2 separate regions of the Homo sapiens genome follow, and region 2 is linked to region 1. A link means that fine-mapping ties the variant in region 1 to the expression of a gene that starts in the linked region. Tissue or cell type: whole blood. Region 1 holds a variant in brackets; the other region holds the start of a gene. All regions are shown on one strand. Distances are from middle to middle.

The links. PIP is the estimated chance that this variant, and not a neighbour inherited with it, causes the effect.
Region 2: AVL9 starts here. The variant in region 1 is fine-mapped to the expression of AVL9 in whole blood (INTERVAL, PIP above 0.99).

Annotation. Positions count from the first base shown.
Region 1 is chr7:32,699,208-32,707,471 of GRCh38, forward strand. It overlaps the pseudogene DPY19L1P1. Among named protein-coding and RNA genes, the nearest start is that of MIR550A2, 30 kb to the right of the region's middle. RefSeq lists enhancers at 3,503-4,003, 4,004-4,504. The variant ACT/A (reference allele first, on the strand shown) is at 4,735.
Region 2 is chr7:32,491,831-32,499,830 of GRCh38, forward strand. It overlaps AVL9 (AVL9 cell migration associated), which reads left to right and starts at 3,659. Exons shown (of 16, transcript NM_015060.3): 1 at 3,659-3,972. The coding sequence starts at 3,880. It also overlaps a transcript of LSM5 not described here. RefSeq lists enhancers at 3,173-3,382, 3,456-4,254, 4,255-5,053 and a silencer at 3,473-4,122.

The sequences.
Region 1 (8,264 bases):
TGGGGATGGCATTGAATCTGTAAATTACCTTGGGCAGTATGGCCATTTTCACGATATTGATTCTTCCTACCCATGAGCATGGAATATTCTTCCATTTGTTTGTATCCTCTTTTATTTCCTTGAGCAGTGGTTTGTAGTTCTGCTTGAAGAGGTCCTTCACATCCCTTGTAAGTTGGATTCCTAGGTATTTTATTCTCTTTGAAGCAATTGTGAATGGGAGTTCACTCATGATTTGGCTCTCTGTTTGTCTGTTGTTGGTGTATAAGAATGCTTGTGATTTTTGTACATTGATTTTGTATCCTGAGACTTTGCTGAAGTTGCTTATCAGCTTAAGGAGATTTTGGGCTGAGACAATGGGGTTTTCTAGATATACAATCATTTTGTCTGCAAACAGGGACAATTTCGCTTCCTCTTTTCCTAATTGAATACTCTTTATTTCCTTCTCCTGCCTAATTGCCCTGGCCAGAACTTCCAACACTATGTTGAATAGGAGTGGTGAGAGAGGGCATCCCTGTCTTGTGCCAGTTTTCAAAGGGAATGCTTCCAGTTTTTGCCCATTCAGTATGATATTGGCTGTGGGTTGGTCATAGATAGCTCTTATTATTTTGAAATACGTCCCATCAATACCTAATTTATTGAGAGTTTTTAGCATGAAGGGTTGTTGAATTTTGTCAAAGGCTTTTTCTGCATCTATTGAGATAATCATGTGGTTTTTGTCTTTGGCTCCCAGTATTTTATTGAGGATTTTTGCATCAATGTTCATCAAGGATATTGGTCTAAAATTCTCTTTTTTGGTTGTGACTCAGCCCGGCTTTGGTATCAGAATGATGCTGGCCTCAGAAAATGAGTTAGGGAGGATTCCCTCTTTTTCTATTGATTGGAATAGTTTCAGAAGGAATGGTACCAGTTCCTCCTTGTACCTGTGGTAGGATTCGGCTGTGAATCCACCTGGTCCTGGACTCTTTTTGGTTGGTAAACTATTGATTATTGCCACAACTTCAGCTCCTGTTATTGGTCTATTCAGAGATTCAACTTCTTCCTGGTTTAGTCTTGGGAGGGTGTATGTGTCGAGGAATTTATCCATTTCTTCTAGATTTTCTAGTTTATTTGCGTAGAGGTGTTTGTAGTATTCTCTGATGGTAGTTTGTATTTCTGTGGGATCAGTGGTGATATCCCCTTTATCATTTTTTATCGTGTCTATTTGATTCTTCTCTCTTTTTTTCTTTATTAGTCTTGCTAGCGGTCTATCAATTTTGTTGATCCTTTCAAAAAACCAGCTCCTGGATTCATTGATTTTTTGAAGGGTTTTTTGTGTCTCTATTTCCTTCAGTTCTGCTCTGATTTTAGTTATTTCTTGCCTCCTGCTAGCTTTTGAATGTGTTTGCTCTTGCTTTTCTAGTTCTTTTAATTGTGATGTTAGGGTGTCAATTTTGGATCTTTCCTGCTTTCTCTTGTGGGCATTTAGTGCTATAAATTTCCCTCTACACACTGCTTTGAATGTGTCCCAGAGATTCTGGTATGTTGTGTCTTTGTTCTCGTTGGTTTCAAAGAACATCTTTATTTCTGCCTTCATTTCGTTATGTACCCAGTAGTCATTCAGGGGCAGGTTGTTCAGTTTCCATGTAGTTGAGCGGCTTTGAGTGGGATTCTTAATCCTGAGTTCTAGTTTGATTGCACTGTGGTCTGAGAGATAGTTTGTTATAATTTCTGTTATTTTACATTTGCTGAGGAGAGCTTTACTTCCAACTATGTGGTCAATTTTGGAATAGGTGTGGTGTGGTGCTGAAAAAAATGTATATTCTGTTGATTTGGGGTGGAGAGTTCTGTAGATGTCTATTAGGTCTGCTTGGTGCAGAGCTGAGTTCAATTCCTGGGTATCCTTGTTGACTTTCTGTCTCATTGATCTAATGTTGACAGTGGGGTGTTAAAGTCTCCCATTATTATTGTGTGGGAGTCTAAGTCTCTTTGTAGGTCACTCAGGACTTGCTTTATGAATCTGGGTGCTCCTGTATTGGGTGCATATATATTTAGGATAGTTAGCTCTTCTTGTTGAATTGATCCCTTTACCATTATGTAATGGCCTTGTCTCTTTTGATCTTTGTTGGTTTAAAGTCTGTTTTATCAGAGACTAGGATTGCAACCCCTGCCTTTTTTTGTTTTCCATTTGCTTGGTAGATCTTCCTCCATCCTTTTATTTTGAGCCTATGTGTGTCTCTGCACGTGAGATGGGTTTCCTGAATACAGCACACTGATGGATCTTGACTCTTTATCCAATTTGCCAGTCTGTGTCTTTTAATTGGAGAATTTAGTCCATTTATATTTAGTTAATATTGTTATGTGTGAATTTGATCCTCTCATTATGATGATAGCTGGGGATTTTGCTCGTTAGTTGATGCAGTTTCTTCCTAGTCTCGATGGTCTTTAAATTTTGGCATGATTTTGCAGCTGCTGGTACCGGTTGTTCCTTTCCATGTTTAGCGCTTCCTTCAGGAGCTCTTTTAGGGCAGGCCTGGTGGTGACAAAATCGGTCAGCATTTGCTTGTCTGTAAAGTATTTTATTTCTCCTTCACTTATGAAGCTTAGTTTCACTGGATATGAAATTCTGGGTTGAAAATTCTTTTCTTTAAGAATGTTGAATATTGGCCCCCACTCTCTTCTGGCTTGTAGGGTTTCTGCCGAGAGATCCACTGTTAGTCTGATGGGCTTCCCTTTGAGGGTAACCGGACCTTTCTCTCTGGCTGCCCTTAACATTTTTTCCTTCATTTCAACTTTGGTGAATCTGACAATTATGTGTCTTGGAGTTGCTCTTCTTGAGGAGTATCTTTGTGGCATTCTCTGTCTTTCCTGAATCTGAACGTTGGCCTGCCTTGCTAGATTGGGGAAGTTCTCCTGGATAATATCCTGCAGAGTGTTTTCCAACTTGGTTCCATTCTCCTCATCACTTTCAGGTACACCAATCAGACGTAGATTTGGTCTTTTCACATAGTCCCATATTTCTTGGAGGTTTTGCTCATTTCTTTTTATTCTTTTTTCTCTAAACTTCCCTTCTCGTTTCATTTCATTCATTTCATCTTCCATTGCTTATATCCTTTCTTCCAGTTGATCACATCAGCTCCTGAGGCTTCTGCATTCTTCACGTAGTTCTCGAGCCTTGGTTTTCAGCTCCATCAGCTCCTTTAAGCACTTCTCTGTATTGGTTATTCTAGTTATACATTCTTCTAAATTTTGTTCAAAGTTTTCAACTTCTTTGCCTTTGGTTTGAATGTCCTCCCGTAGCTCAGAGTAATTTGATCGTCTGAAGCCTTCTTCTCTCAGCTCGTCAAAGTCATTCTCCATCCAGCTTTGTTCTGTTGCTGGTGAGGAACTGCGTTCCTTTGGAGGAGGAGAGACGCTCTGCGTTTTAGAGTTTCCAGTTTTTCTGTTCTGTTTTTTCCCCATCTTTGTGGTTTTATCTACTTTTGGTCTTTGATGATGGTGATGTACAGATGGGTTTTCAGTGTGGATGTCCTTTCTCTTTGTTAGTTTTCCTTCTAACAGACAGGACCCTCAGCTGCAGGTCTGTTGGAATAACCTGCTGTGTGAGGTGTCAGTGTGCCCCTGCTGGGGGTGCCTCCCAGTTAGGTTGCTGGGTGGTCAGGGACCCACTTGAGGAGGCAGTCTGCCTCTTCTCAGATCTCCAGCTGCGTGCTGGGAGAACCACTGCTCTCTTCAAAGCTGTCAGACAGGGATATTTAAGTCTGCAGAGGTTACTGCTGTCTTTTTGTTTGTCTGTGCCCTGCCCCCAGAGGTGGAGCCTATAGAGGCAGGCAGGCCTCCTTGAGCTGTGGTGGGCTCCACCCAGTTCGAGCTTCCCGGCTGCTTTGTTTACCTAAGCAAGCCTGGGCAATGGCGGGCGCCCCTCCCCCAGCCTCGCTGCTGCCTTGCAGTTTGATCTCAGACTGCTGTGCTAGCAATCAGCGAGACTCCGTGGGCGTAGGACCCTCCGAGCCAGGTGCGGGATGTAATCTCGTGGTGCACCGTTTTTTTAGCCCGTCGGCAAAGCGCAGTATTAGGGTGGGAGTGACCTGATTTTCCAGGTGCCATCTGTCACCCCTTTCTTTGACTAGGAAAGGGAACTCTCTGACCCCTTGCGCTTCCCGAGTGAGGCAAGGCCTCGCCCTGCTTCGGCTCGCGCACGGTATGCTGCACCCACTGTCCTGCGCCCACTGTCTGGCACTCCCTAGTGAGATGCACTCGGTACCTCAGATGGAAATGCAGAAATCACCCGTCTTCTGCGTCGCTCACGCTGGGAGCTGTAGACTGGAGCTGTTCCTATTCGGCCATCTTGGCTCCTCCCCCTTAACCATTCTTTAAGGTTCTCTGCTAGCCACAAATTATTTTAATTTTCCTTGATTGGAGAATGTCTATTTCCCCTTCATTCCTAAGGGAAACATCCACTGGATATGTAATTCATCTTGACAATGTTCTGCCACAACCTTCTGGCCTCCTTAATTTCACATGAGAAGTCTGCTACAATTCAAGTCAGTTTTGCCTGTAGGTGATGTGTCATTTCTCCGTACCTGCTTTCAAGATTTTTTCTTTTCGTTTTAAAAGTTAACTTATAATGTATCTTGGCATGGATTTCTCTGGGTTTGTCTTACTTGGGAATGGCTCAGTGTCTTCACTCTGCAGGTGTGTCTTTCACCAAATTTGGGGAGTTTTTAGCAATTACTTCTTAAAATACTATTCAGCCCC[ACT/A]CTCTTTTTCCATTCCTTCTGAAATTTTGATGATACAAATATTAAATCTTTTGTTACTACACCATAGGTCCCGGAGGCTCTGTCCTTTTTCCTGTGATTTTCTCTCAATTTACATTGGGAGATTTCTATTGTTCTATCTGCAAGAGCAGTGACTGCTTCCTCAGTAATATTCACTCCGCTACCAAGTCCATTTACTGAATTTTAATTTTAGTTATTGTATTTTTCAGTTCTATAATCACCAAGTTGTTCTTTAAAAAAAAAAAAAATTCTGTGGTGAGATTTTATAGCCTTTTCATTTGCTTCCAGAGTATTTAAAACTGCTCATTGAAGTGTTTTTATGATGACTGCTTTAAAACCCTTGTCGAATAATCCCCACATCCTATTCATCTCAGTGTTGACATTTGTTGTCTTTTCTCATTCAAGTTGTTTTCTCCATTCTTGCTATGATGAGTGGTTTTTCTATTGTGTCCAGTACATTTTTTATATTATGTTAGAGACTGTGGATCCTATCTTAAATTTCTATTTCAGCAGACAGTCATTTTGTTTTTAGGTTTATCACGCAAGTCCTGGCCTACTTCTGTGTGCTATAGTTACAATGACAGTTTAGTTTTCAGAGTCTTTGCAATGCTAGTGCTATTGTGGTCAGCTTGATTCATCTGGTGCCCTGGTGCTCCGTCTCCACCCCAAATCATGCTGCCGATGCAGGAAGAATGTATTTCCCATGTCCTGTTGCCATGGGATAGAGGGTGAGAGACACCAGACTGTGGGGTAGGGGGTTGGCAGAGGGCAGAGGGCTCTTTCCTAGGGTGCCTAGTCCTAGCAGGGCACCTGTTAGATCTCCGCTGCTGCTACCTGCATGGGCAGCCTCCCTGGAGGGAATAGTAGATACCAGACCCACAGGATGGAGAGCATTTCCCTGGACCCTCTTTCTGATTGTCTTCTGCCACTGGATGGAGTTTCAGGAGGTGGCAGCCTGTGGTGTTTTTCTGTGAGTTCTGAGGTACCTAACTAGTCTGCCTTTCTATATAGCATTGGGCTGGGATTGGAGCTACAGTTATGAAATCATGATTTCATACACACACACACGTGTGCACATACGTGCAGTGAAAGGGCCTAGAAACAAGGACACACTGGTAGTAATAAGTGCACATACCACTCAGGTCTTGGTTTCCAAATACCATTCTCCTCTAAAAGGAACCAGGGCTCCTTGGAAAAAATGGCTGATTCCAAGGCTAGCACAAGGAAAATCAAGAAAAGCCTGGAGCATTATAAATTTATAAAGACATGTCAAAGAGACATCCAGCTTAGGAACATTCAAAACGGCTAGGCCCAGAACTGATATTTGTGTATAACATATGGTTTTTCTCATATAGATAGACTATTCCAGCATCATTTAGTGAAAAGTGACCTGCAAGACAATCTTGCTGAAATTGCTTTGAATCTGAACATCAGCTGGGGAGAACTGCATTACATGAAACTTCATACACATAAATGTGTTTTATTTTTCTATTTATGTCTTAGAATTATTAAAATAAATTTTCATACAAATACTATATGTATTTTGTTAGATTCATTCAGATCCTATGCATTTTTCTTCCTAATACATAAGGCATATTTTTAAAAAATATGTTTTCTGTTTGTTGCCAAAGAATAAAAATGCAATTGATTTTTGAATATTAAACATATCTAGCCATGGTATTGAATTCTTCTAATTCCTAATAAGTTGTCAATTATTTTATTCTTTCTAGGTAAATATTGATACTATAATAAATTTTCCTTCTTTCTGTTTCTTTCCTTTTCCTATTATTTACTTTTCTTGCATTACTAGGCTAGTTTGGACTTTATTTTTTTTTATTTTTTATTTTTTTCTTTTGAGACGGAGTCTCGCTCTGTCGCCCAGGCCGGACTGCGGACTGCGGACTGCAGTGGCGCAATCTCGGCTCACTGCAAGCTCCGCTTCCCGGGTTCACGCCATTCTCCTGCCTCAGCCTCCCGAGTAGCTGGGACTACAGGCGCCCACCACCGCGCCCGGCTAATTTTTTGTATTTTTAGTAGAGACGGGGTTTCACCTTGTTAGCCAGGATGGTCTCGATCTCCTGACCTCATGATCCACCCGCCTCGGCCTCCCAAAGTGCTGGGATTACAGGCGTGAGCCACCGCACCCGGCCTGGACTTTAATAAAATGTGAAAAAGCACATTTATCTTTATCTTGATTTTAAACAGAACACTCTAAATACTTTATTATCAGTAAGACTAATGACTGCTGAAGAATTTTACTGGGTTGAGAAAACTGTTATTTCTATTGTGTTACATGTTTTCATTATAAATGGATGTTCAATTTTATCAATTTTATTTTCTGCATCTAATGGGATGATCATAAGATTTTTTCTCTTTTAATCTGTTAGTGTGATAACTTACATTTTTGGATTTTCCAGAAATGTCTTTGGATTCCTAGAATAAGCCAGATTTATCACAAGTGGATTATCTTTATCATATATATGGCTGTTCTTGAGTTACTAATCTTTTATACTTTTGTGTGTAAGGAATGCTTTTAATCTAGGTGAAATTTTGAATCTATGCTCACAAATAAGAATATCCTTTCTCAAACTATCCTCATCTGGCCTTAGTACTGAGCTTTAGATTATCTTGGAGGTTCCATTTCCCTTCTTGTAATGATTCTTATGCCTCATGGCACACACAAAGTTCCCCTTTGTAAATTTCATATGAGCTCAATTCAATAATTACCTTGCCACCAAAAACTGGAGTCTCCCATTAAACAGTGAATTTGCTTCTATTGATGTTAAACTCTAAACTGAATCACTTAGATCTAAAAATACCTTGTGCAGGTTGTGTGTAATAAATACTTACCTTTGCCAAAGACATACAGAGCTAGAAACAGAAAATAATACCTAGGAAGGCTTAAAAAACATGTAAGCTGAACATTTGGTTAAATCTCAACTTTTCTCTCCTTAGATTTTTTGTTTCTTTGATATTCTTGAATTTAAAACTTAGTCAATTCATGTTCTTTCCAGTCTACTACTGAAAATATTCTTGAAAATGAAGACAGTAAATTTTCCTTTGAGTGCAGCCTTGGCAGAATTTTTTTGATGTTTATGGACACTCTTCTACTTACTGTCATTTTTCAATAGTTTGCAACTGAAATTCTGACCTTCTTTTGAGTTGTATTAAATTGCTCAATTTTTCTGAAGTGAAAGAATTATATATTACAAGTGTAATGTCGATATGTGAATTTCTACAAAGCCTGCATGCCTAACAACAGGTGGCCTGGGTAAAGAGTCAAATTGGTAGAACCAATAAAGAATAATAAAAAGACAAAAAAAGCATCATGTCATTCATTCAACAACTTACTGGACAAATCTTTCTATATTTTCACCATAAAGGATGGGAGAATGCCTCCAACAAGAAGAAAATAGCAACTCCTTACATTTTGTTCTCTTGTATTGTGGGTAGGAACCTACCTCCTCAACTTGTAACATTTCCAGACTTATCCTCTCAATATATAACATG
Region 2 (8,000 bases), 210 kb before region 1:
CTAGCATTGCTAGCTGGTTTTGCATTCATCTTATTTTTATAACCAGACATAAGCCACTTTAAGGAAGCAATTTCTTATTTTATACACTGTGCACACTACATTTTCAGGCACACTGTAGGGCGCCTAATGAATATTCTTTAAATTGATTCTCACTATTTCATTCACACCCATCAACATTCTCCTTACTCTTCATAAGATTTTAAATACGAAGTAATGCCAGATTTGTTTGTGACGCTTCTTTCTTTCTCTTTCTCTTTTTTTCTTTTTGTCCAATCCTCATTTGGTTGAAAACCACCTCTTTTCCTGGTTTTCCTTTTCTATTCCTATTTTATTTTCCCCATACCATACTGACAGTATGGGAGAATTCAAAACATTGTTGTTATTTGATAGAGTTTTTAAAAATTAGAAAAATAGGCTGGGCACAGTGGCTCACGCCTATAATCCCAACACTTTGGGGGCCGAGGTGGGCGGATCACGAGGTCAAGACATGAAGACCATCCTGGCCAACATGGTGAAACCCCATCTCTACTAAGAATACAAAAATTAGCTAGGTGTGGTGGCACACGCCTGTAGTCCCAGGTACTCAGGAGGCTGAGGCAGGAGAATCGCTTGAACCTGGGAGGCAGAGGTTGCAGTGAGCCAATCGTGCCACTGCACTCCAGCCTGGCGACGGAGTGAGACTCCATCTCAAAACAACAACAACAAAAAAAAAACAGAATAAACATTAGCAATTTTGAATGCCACTAATAAAGAATAAAGAAAATCTCTTTAGAATCTGAAAAAAGGAACGATATATAGTTCACTTACATAGTAGAGTTAATGGGGATTTCAGGGAGTGGTATTTTTATTATTTTCTCTCCTGAGGCAAGACACAAAAAGGAAGAACAGGCCAATTCCAAATGGAGAGTTGTTATGAACTTGAAAATATGTCATAGCTCTATGTCTCAAGGATTTTTCTCCCTTTAAGTCTTAAGTAGAAGACGTAAAATAGAATTTATAATTTATCATAAAATACATGTAACTACCAAAGGCTCTTCCATGTATTATATGTTCAGAAAGGCATTTCTAATTTTCTCCCTCGAGTTAAATTAGAAATTTTATTATTTTCCCAATAGACATTTGTCCTTGTGGACAATATCTTGTTAATGAATTTATTCTACATTAATACAACTCATTTAAAACATAATGTAAGATGTGCATGGTGGCAGGCAACTGTAGCCCCAGCTACTTAGGAGGCTGAGGCAGGAGGATCCCTTGAGCCCAAGAGTTTGAGGCCAGCCTGGGCAACATAGCAACACCCCATCATATTTTATTTATTAATTTAGAGACAAGACCTCACTCTGTTACCCAGGCAGGAGTACAGTGGTGTGCTCGCGGACTCAAGCAATCCTCCCATCTCAGCCTCCTGAGAAGCCAGTACCACAGGCGCGTGCTACCAAGTCTGGCTATTTATTTTTTATTATTTTTTGTAGAGATGAGGTCTCATTACATTGCTCAGGTTGGTCTCGAACTCTTGGACTCAAGTGATCTACCCACCCTGGCCTCCCAAAGTGCTGAGATTACAGGTGTGAGCCGCCATGCCCCACCTATATTCTAAATTCTTAAGTGGTCCAGTCTGTGTATTTAGAGATGAAAAAAATCCTGGAAATTCCCTTGTTCACTTTCTGTCTCAATTTTCCCAGTAACTAACTTTTTCTTTCTCTCTCTCTCCCTTTCTTTATTTTTTTGAGATGGAGTCTCATTCTGTCATCTGGGCTGGAGAGCAGTGCAGTGACACCATCTCAGATCACTGCAACCTCCACCTCCCGGGTTAGGGTGATTCTCTTGCCTCAGCCTCCCTAGTAGCTGGGATTACACACACCACCATGCCTGGCTAATTTTTGCATTTTTAGCAGAGATGGGGTTTCACCATGTTGCCCAGGCTGGTCTCCAACTTTTGGCCTCAAGTGATCTGCCCGCATCGGCCTCCCAAAGTGCTGGGATTACCAGCATGAGCCACCACGCCTGACCCTCTTTTTATATATATCTTTTTTTTTTTTAGAGGAAATCTCGCTCTTGTCCCCCAGGCTGAAGTGCGATGGTGCAATCTTGGCTCACTGCAACCTCCACCTCCCGGATTCAAGCAATTCTCCTGTCTCAGCCGTCCGAGTAGCTGGGATTACAGGTCTAATTTTTGTATTTTGTACTAGAGAGGGGGTTTTACCATGTTGGCCAGGCTGGTCTAGAACTCCTGACCTCAGGTGATCTGCCTGCCTTGGCCTCCCAAAGTGCTGGGATTACAGGCGTGAGCCACCACACCCGGCCCTTATATACATCTTTAAAAGGTGTTCAATTAGACAGTAATTTTAGCCATGCCAATTGTGGAAAATATCAAGACAGGTTATATCAAGAAAATATTAATAGTTAACACATCACACAGCTGACAGCTCAAAACAGTTAATATATTAAGAAAACAGTTAATATATTCTGCATACAGGGAGCAATATAGTTTTACACAGTTTTCTTAGCCAATGCCAATAATTTTGTAATACAGAAAAGAAATGTATAGCAGCATCTTGAAAAATGTCTGCAGTATTAGCATTAAAACAGTTCTACTGAATCACAGAAACTAAATTTGATTTAGGAAGCCTACTGTTTTTCTCAGCTATGGTTAGATTAGAACAGAGCTCCTTACTTTTCAAGACCAGAAGTGCAAAATATCACAGTTACTGTAGTAATCTCGAATTCTATTTGAAGCAGACACCTATCCTTTAGGTTATTTGAAAACTGTCCTAGATAAGACTTGTTAAATCTTTTCTATAATGCACTTTAAATTGACATGAGATTCACTGCTTAAAAAAGAATTGTAGTACAATCAGTAAAGGAATTAAAAAACCCTGGTGACAACAGAGCCCATATATTTTGTATTGACCAGAGTACTACACCCAAAATGAGATGGAATGAAAAGAATATTCTTATAAAATCGCAGGACTAGAATAATCATTTTACACGTATCCAAGTAAACTTCCTTTGTTGTCAAGGATATTCTGTTTCAGGTTTTAAATGCGTCTCAGATTCCTACACATAATATTTAAACGAAGAAAAAAAAACTCTAGAAAGAAACAAACAAGAATTCTCGAGTAAGCAAGTAATTTAAAGGCTGAATACACAGATACGCAACCTCACCAGTATGCTCCATGTTACTACATATTTAAGAATAAGGACGGGGGCCACAGAGGCAAAGGCAAGGAGGTGAAGGAATCGGACACTCGGAGAGTGAACCGAAAAGATGTGAAAAAGCAAGGAAAACAGAAGAGAAGAGGGAAGTGGGAAAACTTTGAGGAAAAAGAGAAGGCAAAAGAGAAGGAAGTGCTTTGAGATTGAATCCAGGGAGGAAAAAGCAGGTGTGCCACGCCGCACCTCCAGGTCCCGCGGACACCACAGGCTCTGCAAGCCCAGCCGCCCGGGTCACGTAAGCCCCACCCCGCCGCTCCTCGTCAAGTCCCACCCGGACCCGCCCTCCCCCCGCTCCTCCCCCCGCTCCTCCCCGCCCCACAGAGTCGATCTCTCCTCTCCTAGACCCACCCCGCTCCCCCAGGCTCCACCTCGGCCTCTCAGACCCCGCCCCGTCAGGGCCCTCCCGGCCTTGCCCAGCCCTGCCTCGCCGGCGGCGGCCGCCGTGTCAGGTGACAGCCCGGAAGCTGCGGAAGCGGATGAGGGAAGGGCGGCCGTGGCCCTGGGGGCGGCGGGAGCTGCTTTGCCTCCACCGATCTCCCTGTGCGGCCCTCATGTGCTGTGCTCGCTGACACCCGAAGTCCGCGGCTTTCCGCACACGGTGGGGTCGTCAGACCCGCTGCCCTTGGCGGTCGAAGTCGTCGTGCGGGCCCGCGGCGGCCGCCCATGGAGAAGGCCAGGAGAGGCGGGGATGGCGTCCCCCGGGGGCCCGTACTGCACATCGTGGTGGTCGGATTTCACCACAAGAAGGGCTGCCAGGTGAGGAAAGGGCCCGCCCCCGCCCCCAGCCGTTCGGGCGTTCGCCCCTTCCGGGGCCCCCCTGCCCTGCTTCTGTGTGCTCAGCTCGCGTCGTGCAGTCCTCCCCACAGCGCCTGCGACCCTTCGCCTCTCAACCTGACTCCTTTTGCAGCTCCTCCCACCCGCCCCACATGAAGCCCAGCCCCCACAACCTCTTCCTTCTGCCCCTGAAAAATGGTTGAGCAGCGGAGGAGCTGGTTGATACGTGTAGGTTGTAGGTTTTTAACTTCTGCTTTGGTGGAGTGGGAGGAAAGCATCGAAGACCGGCCCCACTCTCTTCCCCGTCCATCATTGTCTCCACTGGCTTTCTGGGTGTCCACCTATAATGGGAGTCTAGAAAAATTCAGTGCTTGGACTCTGCTTTCAAGGTAATAGGCTCAGTGGGCTTGCATACTAATGCTTCAGGTAGCTTGCAGCACATGCAGCCTCCGTAGAAAAATCAGCTTCCTTTGTTTATCTGATGGAAGCCTTGGAATCTCTCCTGTTAGGTACGGTTGTCGATTGACTTTGCCTCCCCCTTCCCATTGGTCCTTAGTTTTGCTATTTCATCTTCTCCAGATTTTGCCTTTTGGTGAGAGATTAATCTCTCCATATCAACCGCAATAAGAGAAAGTGTATTACCAAACCGTTCAAATATAAAGGCGTTTTTCAGCAGCCTCACTGAATCATTAATGCAGCATCTGAAATGGAATATTTGCAATCTATGTATTGAAGGCAAGAGAACAAAATAGAAACAGGATTATTTAATGAGCAAGCAAACACTGGAAGGGAATGATGTCATAATGTGCTAGTGAACAGTAAATTGAAATGCTTTTTTGAAGTATTAAAAATAGTAATTGCCACCACTAGCTAATGAAGCATTTAGTTTCTTGCATTCCACAGGAAATGTAACATTTTAGAAGACTTATTGGCAAAAATTAAGTTCTCTAGGGAATAAGAGAAAAGTGATGGGAGTGAAAAAATCGTGTTTGTGCGTAATTTTGAAATATATCCTCACACCTGGAATGCCAGCACTTTTAGAGACTGATATGAAAGGCTCACTTGAGCCCAGGAGTTTGAGACCAGCTTAGATAACAAAGGGAAACACTGTCTCCACAAAAAAATTAAAAAATTAGTTGCATGTGATAGCGCACTTGTAGTCCCAGCTACTCGGTAGGCTAAGGTGGGAACATCGCTTGAGCCCAGGAGGCTGAGGCTACAGTGACCCTTGATCCCACCACTGCACTCCAGCCTGGGTGAGAGAGCAAGACCCTGTCTCAATCCCAGCACTTTGGGAGGCCGAGGCGGGTGGATCACCTGAGGTGAGGAGTTCGAAACCAGCCTGGACAACACGGTGAAACCCCGCCTCTACTAAAAATACAAAATTAGCTGCGCGTGGTGGCACATGCCTGTGATCCCAGCTACTTGGGAGGCTGAGGCACGAGAATTGCTTGAAGCCGGGAGGCAGAGGTTGCTGTGAGCCGAGATCACGCCATTGCACTCCAGCCTGGGCAACAAGAGCGAAAAAAAAAGTTTTGGAAAGTGTGTGTTACATGCATAAGTCTTAGAATGACTGGTCTAGAATCTGTTCTTTATAACCTGTACATCAGGTGTTTTCAGAGGCTTTAATTAAAGTATGTAAGATTTGCCCCAGGATAGATTAATCAGCTACCTAATTCTCCACTTTAACTATTTTACTTCCAGGTGTAAATTAAAGGTGCATGGCTCATTGAGTTGTGACTCTGACTTAACACGGTTTTAACTTGTGTGAGGGTACTTAGACTGCTCTTCCAAGTATTCAAAATTGCCGTGGGTCATGTTGACCATTAGTTCTTTTTTTTTTTTTTTTTCTTCAGATGGAATCTCACTCTCTCACCCAGGCTGGAGTGCAGTGGAGCTCGGCTCACTACAAGCTCTGCCTCCTGGGTTCACACCATTCTCCTGCCTCAGCCTCCCGAGTAGCTGGGACTACAGGCGCCCGCCACCGCGCCCGGCTAATTTTTTGTATTTTTAGTAGAGACGGGGTTTCACAATGTTAGCCAGGATGGTCTCGATCTCCTTACCTCGTGATCCGCCCGCCTCGGCCTCCCAAAGTGCTGGGATTACAGGCGTGAGCCACCACGCCCAGTCATGACCATTAGTTCTAAATGTGCGCTGAGATTGTGCATAGGGAAGATTCCTATACTTGGTCGTAATTTGTAACTTTTAAATAGAAGTGACTGAAGTAAAACCTTTGTTTTAAAAGTGATGCCTTTCAGCAGTCCGCTTGGTTAAGCATGATAACTTTGTCATTTGACATGGACCTCAAAGTAAAAGCCATCTTCTAATACTGCTGTGTTGAAGACCCAAAACTAGGCTTGTGGAAAATGTTAGTTCATTTTGTTTCTAGCACTTTTTCCACCTTTGAAGTCCTCAGATTTTTTTTTTTTTTTTTTTTTTTTGAGACGGAGTCTTGTTCTGTCACCCAGGCTGGAGTTCAGTGCAGTGGCGCGATCTCCACTCACTGCAACTTTCACCTCCTGGGTTCAAGTGATTCTCCTGCCTCAGCCTCCCAAGTAGCTGGGATTACAGGCATGCACCACCGTACCTGGCTAATTTTTTATATTTTTGGTAGAGACGGGGTTTCACCATGTTGGTCAGGCTGGTCTAGAACTCCTGACCTCAAGTGATCCACCCGCCTTGGCCTCCCAAAGTACTGGGATTACAGGCATCAGGCCAGATGTATTTTAAATGAAAAATTCCTTCATTTGAATTTAAATGAACATCTATTAACTTTATCACTTGATCTTTTTTTTTTTTTCACTTTTATTTGGGTAACTTGTGGAAGTAAATTCTTCTGTAGATAGCGTGTTAGCTTCTAGATGTCATTTTTCTAGTTTACTGATATACTTAACATTTAGAACATTTTAAGTGATTTTTTTGAGTTCTACCATAACATTTAAAGTTGTTTCAAAATATTTACTCATTTCAACTTTTTACTGAATTGTTTAAAATTTAATATTTAACAAGGGATAATAATTAACAAGGGATAATTTAACATTTAACAAGGGATACTAAGTGTGGCCGGGTGCAGTAGCTCATGCCTGTAATCCTAACACTTTGGGAGGCCGAGGCGGGTGGATCACCTGAGGTGAGGAGTTCGAAACCAGCCTGGACAACACGGTGAAACCCCGCCTCTACTAAAAATACAAAATTAGCTGCGCGTGGTGGCACATGCCTGTGATCCCAGCTACTTGGGAGGCTGAGGCAGGAGATTTGCTTGAATCTGGGAGGCGGAGGTTACAGTGAGCGAAGATCTGCCTACTGCACTCCAGCCTGGGCGACAATGAGTCCCTGTCTCAAAACGAAACAAAACAAAAATTTATCTGACATTAGACCCTTTGGCATGAAATAATTTATGGATACCTTCTCTGTAGTAAATTGGCTTGTTATAGATTGTGTATTCCAGAGTTTTGTTTGTTCCAATATATAAATTATACTTGTCGGACTACCAAAATTTTTTGCTAAGTAGCATCAAATATATATCACATTAACTCTGTTTTTTTTTTTCATAAACAGGTTAGAACTTTTTTAACTACTCAAGTTAAAAGGGAATAGGTTATTTTCCAAAGTGATGTCATAAAAAGTTGAAATAATTACTTAATTTTTGGCCACTTTTCTGATAGTTTATTGTTTTGTATACATAGCTAGCAGTTTTAAGTCTTAAGTAAACTGGATTTACCAAACTGTATTTCTAATACAAAAAAGGCAGAATAACAATTTTTTTTTTTAATTATACTTTAAGTTCTGGGATACATGTGCGAAACATTCGGGTTTGTTATATAGGTATACATGTGCCATGGTGGTTTGCTGCATCCATCAACCAGTCATCTAGATTTTAAGCCCCATATGCATTAGGTATTTGTCCTAATGCTTTCCCTCCCCTTGCCTCCCATCCCCCAACAGGCACCAGTCTGTGATGTTCCCCTCCCTGTGTCCATGTGTTCTCATTGTTCAACTCCCACTTATGA